2 separate regions of the Homo sapiens genome follow, and region 2 is linked to region 1. The links come from fine-mapping of genetic effects on gene expression. Tissue or cell type: whole blood. Region 1 holds a variant in brackets; the other region holds the start of a gene. All regions are shown on one strand. Distances are from middle to middle. Region 1 overlaps MAP2K5 (mitogen-activated protein kinase kinase 5). Region 2 holds the start of SKOR1 (SKI family transcriptional corepressor 1).

Region 1 (2,500 bases):
ACCTGTGTTGGTGTGGACATCTGTGGGTTGTCTTCTCCTTGCTGTTTCCCCTCTCCCTTCAAGATGGACCCCGATTGTTTGGCTTCCTGTTTGTGTGACCTGACTACTTTGTTTGCATGTATGATGGATTTGTGTTTGCTGGATTAGTGTCTGATAGCCCTCTGTATTCCCTACAGCTGTGCCACTCAAGTAGTCGTCCTGTGAACTGCTTGCTGCTGGCCTGCAATGATACAAGTAGCCATGCTGCAATGTGAACCGCAAACAGCTTTCTTCGCTCACAACGTTTTGCTCCAAAAAGCTGAACTGAACTAAACAGAATGCTTTCAGACAGGCTTGATTTATATCCTGGCACAAATTCCTTATCTTCCTGTGTTTAAGAAACAGTTCGGGGCCGGGCACGGTGGCTCACACCTGTAATCCCAGCACTCTGAGAGGCCCAGGCAGGCGGATCACTTGAGGTCAGGAGTTTGAGACCAGCCTGGGCAACATGGGGAAACCCCGTCTCTACTGAAAATACAAAAATTAGCCATAGTGTTGTTCATGTGTAGTCTCAGCTACTCAAGGAAGGGCGGGTGCTGAGGTAGGAGGATCACCTGAGCCTGGGAGATTGAGGCTGCACTGAGCCAAGATCGTGTCACTGCACTCCAGCCTAGGTGACACAGTAAGACCCTGTCTCAGGGAAAAAACAACAAACAGTTCAGATACTACCACTGGTGCACAGCCCATACTCCGAGTTCAGCTAAACACGAATGTGCTCAGTAAAAAGTTTGTTGAGTTAAAGGTAATTTCTCCCAAACTTGAGGAACATCATCTCTTGGAAGTTGCCCATTTCTATACCCATGATGGCAGAAGTGGAAAGGCAGAAAGGTTTGTGACCAGACAGCTGTCAGGACACACTCTGCCCTCAGTTTTTGCCAAAACCAAAGAAACAATGATTACATAAATTCTCACAGCTTCCCCTCAGATAACCAACTAACAGACCAGGTGCAAACTGTTGGTAATTACTTCCTCTTTTGTGTTTTGTCTCTACTGAGGCTCAGGCTTCAACCAGGCCACCCTGCCACCTGGGGATGGGTGGAGAGTGTGTGCAGCCATCTGCTCTCTGCCTCGACCACGGCCCTGCAGATGCAGCCTGTGGCATCAAGGTGGAAGGGACCATAGGGAGGGAGTTGAGCAAAGCATCCTACAGGGGCATTGGCTTCACAAGCACACTCTGCTGAAATCCTACAAGTTTGTTTGTGTGGTCCTGTATTTGTATTTAGCTTTATTTTTCTAACTGCAAGAAATAGTTTGACTTAGCGGAAATTCTCTAAACCACAATAACAATCCTCTGCCTACTATGCAACAACGGGTGTAGCTTTGATGTTGTGCAGTAGGACAGTCCTGTGTTTTTCCTGGCTGTGTGACTCTAGGCAAGGAAATTAACCTCTCTGAGACCCAGTTTATGCATCAGTAAAATGGGAATAAGAATAATCCTTATAGTGTTCA[T/A]GTGAAGGTCAAATGAGATAACTTAGATGAAAGAATGCTCTAACTTAAGTGTTTAAAATGTTTTATGTTTAGATCCATTTCTCTCTATATAATAAATCAATTTTTTAAAGATTATAAAACAGGATCCTTTCTGGATTCATCTTCAGCCCCAAGTTAGGTGCAATTGTTACTTCAATCTCTTCAAGTTTGTTTAGAGAAAATAAATTGTAGTATGAATACTGGCTAGTGTGGCTATTAGAGGCTCTGGTACTTTTACTTATGATATAAGCTGCCTTTCACATCTGTGTGCAGAAAAGTAATATACTCACATAAATACCCAAATGTCCGTGGGTCCCAGCTCACCTGTCACTCCATTCTCAAAGCCTCCCCAGATACCCCTAGCAGAAATTCATTTCACTTGTTAAATTCATATCATTTAAATTCAATGACCATATATTTGAGCATTCTACTCAGGCTGGAGACTGGGCTAGATGCTAAGGATACAAAGATAAGACATGATCTCTTCCTCGAGGGGTTGTGGTCTCTTTTATTGACTGTTACCACAAGTTACTGCCACAAAGCGTGACGAGTGCACTAACAGAAGTATTAGCCAGGGTGAAGGGTGACAGGCAAAAGGAAGTCCTCAACCCAACTGAAGCACGCTTAGCAAAGCTTCACAGAGGTTGTGCCAGTTGGGTTTCGGAGGTGGAGAAGTTCACCATCTGGCGGTGAGAAAACAGCACAAGCAAAGACATGACTGTGTGAGGATGCCTCACGCATCTGGGGACTGCCAGAAGTTTGGAGCACAGGACTCCACAGGAGTGGCCTGAGGTGAAGGGGTAGGTGAGGGTGGGAGGAGAAGGTGAGCGGGGGTCTCTGGCAATTCTCACATTCTATCCTGTGCTTGGCTGTGTCTACCCTCACCTTCCTCACTGGACTGTGAGCTGGCTGGGGGGTCAGGACTTGGGGCTGACATGCTGCCTCCTCGGTGTCAGGCAGGATGCTGGGCACAGAGCAGATGCTAAGACATAAA
Region 2 (3,014 bases), 41 kb before region 1:
GGTACCGGGAGGCTGCCTGCTGCTGGCCAGAACATGGGAAACGTCGGGTACACAGTGGCGGCGGCGGCCGCTGCAGCCACTGCCGCTGCGTCCTTGGCTGCCCCGGAGGGTTGATGCCCCCAGAACATGGCGCCGCCGCCCGGGCCCGCCCCTGCCCCCGGGGGCAAGTGGCTGGCTCCCGGGCCCCCCGCACCCCCGCCTGTCCCCGCGCCGCCGCCGCCGCTCCCAGTGCCAGGACCGCCCTTTGGCTCGCCCGCGCCTAAAACCGGGTCGTCCTTTTTGGGGCATAGGCCGAAGGCCGTAGGGAAGCCGTAAGGATGGGGGAAAAGTGGTGGGGGCAGCTTTTGCAGGAGCCCAAAGCCTTTGCTGGGCACCGGGATCACCGGGTAGCTTCGTACGCCGGCGCCGCCACCGGGCCCTCCTGGGCCCGCCGGGCCACTAGCTCCAGTCGCCAGGCCAAGTCCGCGCTGCGGGTGGGGTGGAGGTGGCCCCGGAGGCCCGGCAGCCTCATCTTCGCCACAGCGCAGGCTTTTGTGGGGCGGCGGGCCTGGGGCCATCTCTGCACCGCACCCTGGGCCACCGCCGCCACCGCCGCCAGCACCACCCTTCCCCTGCCCACCCGACCCGCCATTGGCACCGCCTCCGCCGCCTCCTTGTAGGGAGAAGGTCCGCTTGCGCGTGCCGCCATTAAACATGGCCTTGACGTCCTCCCAAGCATGGCTCAGTTCGTCTGTGGCCGACTTGTCACTGAGTTTGAGGTGACGACGCCAGGAGTTGAAGTTGGCGGCATCGGGCTGCGTGTACTTGGCGTCGGGTGTTCGGTGCGAGTGGAAGATGAACTTGTTGGGCGAGAAGTACATGCTGCAGTAGCCGCACTTGATGCACTTGGCACGAGAGCTGTTGTAACGCGCAGGGATGAAGCTACCACGCGAGCCCCACGCGCACTCGTGCACCACATCGAAGGCGAAGTTCTCGGGCAGCTTGGGTGGTTTGTGCTCGCCCAGGAACGACTTGCACAGGCGTTCGGCCTCTCGCTTAGTGATCATGCCGCAGCGGCGCGACGAGATGGGCATGGCCCCGGCCCGACGCAGAATCTCCAGCTGTACCGGCGTGCACTGCACGCACGTGATGCCCAGGGCCACGCGGCGGTTGTGGATCTCATTATAGCTGTAGTTCTTGAGGAGGGTGTTGGAGATCTGCGCCAGGCATAGGCGCTCCTGGCCGTCGATGACCAGCGACACAATGGGCACCCCGTACAGCGACGTCTCGCCCACCTGGTTGGGTTTGAGAGCGCTGGAGCCCGAGTACGGCTGCAGCTCCTGCTTGGAGTTGGGCGAGGAACTGCCCTCGCGCCCCGGCCCCAGCTGAGTGGTGAGAGCCTCCATGCCGCCGCTCCTGCGAAATAGAGAAAGCAGAGAGCAGATGAGCCATTTTCAGCGCCGCCGCCGAGGCTCGGGCCCGCCCAGCAGGGCGCTCCGAGTTGGGCGCGCGGGGGATACTTGGCAGTGGGGAGTCCAAACTCATTCACCCCCTGGACAGGCGTCTTTTGTTACTCAGACCCATGTTGGCGCCGTTAACAACAGCCCCCGGGGCTTGGGGGAGGAGAAGGGGTAAAGGAGACCTCAGGAATGCCCGGGCTGCAAGGAACCCAATCCCGTTTTCGGATTGGGAAGGAAGTGAAACCCAGATACGCAGAGTGACTTGCCCAAGGCCACACAGCAAAGCCATTGCCAAATCCTGGCTTTTTCAGCGCCCAGATCCGTGCGCCTTCGGCAACCCTCGCAGCCGGTGCTGCCGGCCCGGGTCCTGAAGCCCGGACTTCGGGGATCGGCCGCCCCTCTGCTCAGTCGCGCATGCACGCGGGCGGGCGGGGGCAGTGCAAGGAGGGGTGGGGAGGGGGGAGGGGCGGTCACTGCCCATCTCCAGACAGCAGGGGGTAGAGGGGGGTGAAGAGAAGGAGGGGGGTGAGGAGAAGGAGGAGGGAACCGTGTCTGCCAGGGAAGGAGAGAGGCGGAGGCTACCGCTGTTCGCGGTGCTGAACCTGACCCTCTCCAAAGCGCTCGGTGCGCACCCGGACCTAGCGCGGCCCCCACCGCACCCAGCTTGGTGCCCGAGCCGGCTTCAGGGGACAACATTGCCAGTTTCCACAAACCCGAGCTTCTCCTCTCACGGCTGGCGCCCGCGTTCGTTGAGCAGAAAGATTTCGGCTGGATATATAAACCGTTTTCTTTCCAGCTATTAGTGAGACCAGGATCCTGCAGTTCTAACCACATTTTCTGCATTTTTAGCTGTATTCCAGACCAAAGCTGGTTTCCACCGAGGTCAACGTGTGGGACAGAGAGGTTCTCAAGGAACTTTGTTGGGATCCACTTCTTAGCTTCCAGTCGCCCACTCCTTGAGCTTTCCTCCTTCAGATATACGTTTCCCACTCGGGCCAACTGCAGGATTCGGGGCTCTGGGCTTCCTCTTTGAGGGGCATCACCTCTCTGAGTATCCTTCATGCCTCGCTGTCCCGGCTCATATGGGCTAGAAGGAATCTCAGCCATCTTCGTAGCCATTGCAAGGCTCCAGGCACACAAGTTGCTGCTGGTCCTTGCACTTTGCTTTCTGGCTGAGGCAGGGAGGGAGCTGTGCAGGCAGACCTCAGCAGCGGGGGTACTTGGGGACTGATGTTTGGGGCCCTCTAGGTCGCCTGACCCAGCCACATGTCCTCAGACAAGCCAGGCTCCCATCCGGCCCAAGGCTGCAGGCGCTCCTGCGGCCAGGGCAGCCCAACCCTGAGGGCTCCTCCCCTGCAGTCGGCCCTGAATGTAACTCCGTTTTCAGAGGGGCAGCTCCAGACAGGGGATCCCAGTTCAAAAGCCTTCAGCAAGGAGACTGGAATCTTCTGTTTATCTGTCTCTCTCCCTTCTTCTCTATTTGTCTAGGAGACCCTCATTTGTCGATCTTATCTGTCCCTGAGCTGTCTCTGCCGGCTCGTTCCTCTTTCTCTCATCTGTTTTGTACCTTCTTCA

Evidence for each region. PIP is the estimated chance that this variant, and not a neighbour inherited with it, causes the effect. A credible set is the group of variants that fine-mapping cannot tell apart.
Region 2: it holds the start of SKOR1, and the variant in region 1 is the best candidate, but not a certain one, in a credible set for the expression of SKOR1 in whole blood (TOPMed, PIP 0.54).

The regions. Positions count from the first base shown.
Region 1 is chr15:67,783,134-67,785,633 of GRCh38, reverse strand. All of the region lies in intron 21 of MAP2K5 (mitogen-activated protein kinase kinase 5), which reads right to left. Among named protein-coding and RNA genes, the nearest start is that of SKOR1, 41 kb to the left of the region's middle. The variant T/A (reference allele first, on the strand shown) is at 1,489.
Region 2 is chr15:67,824,317-67,827,330 of GRCh38, reverse strand. SKOR1 (SKI family transcriptional corepressor 1) reads right to left here and starts at 1,822. Exons shown (of 9, transcript NM_001365915.1): 1 at 1,622-1,822; 2 at 1-1,395. The coding sequence starts at 1,728. It overlaps LOC124903570, which reads right to left. Exons shown (of 4, transcript XM_047433429.1): 3 at 1,929-2,692; 4 at 1,747-1,818. The coding sequence ends at 1,747. RefSeq lists an enhancer at 1-554.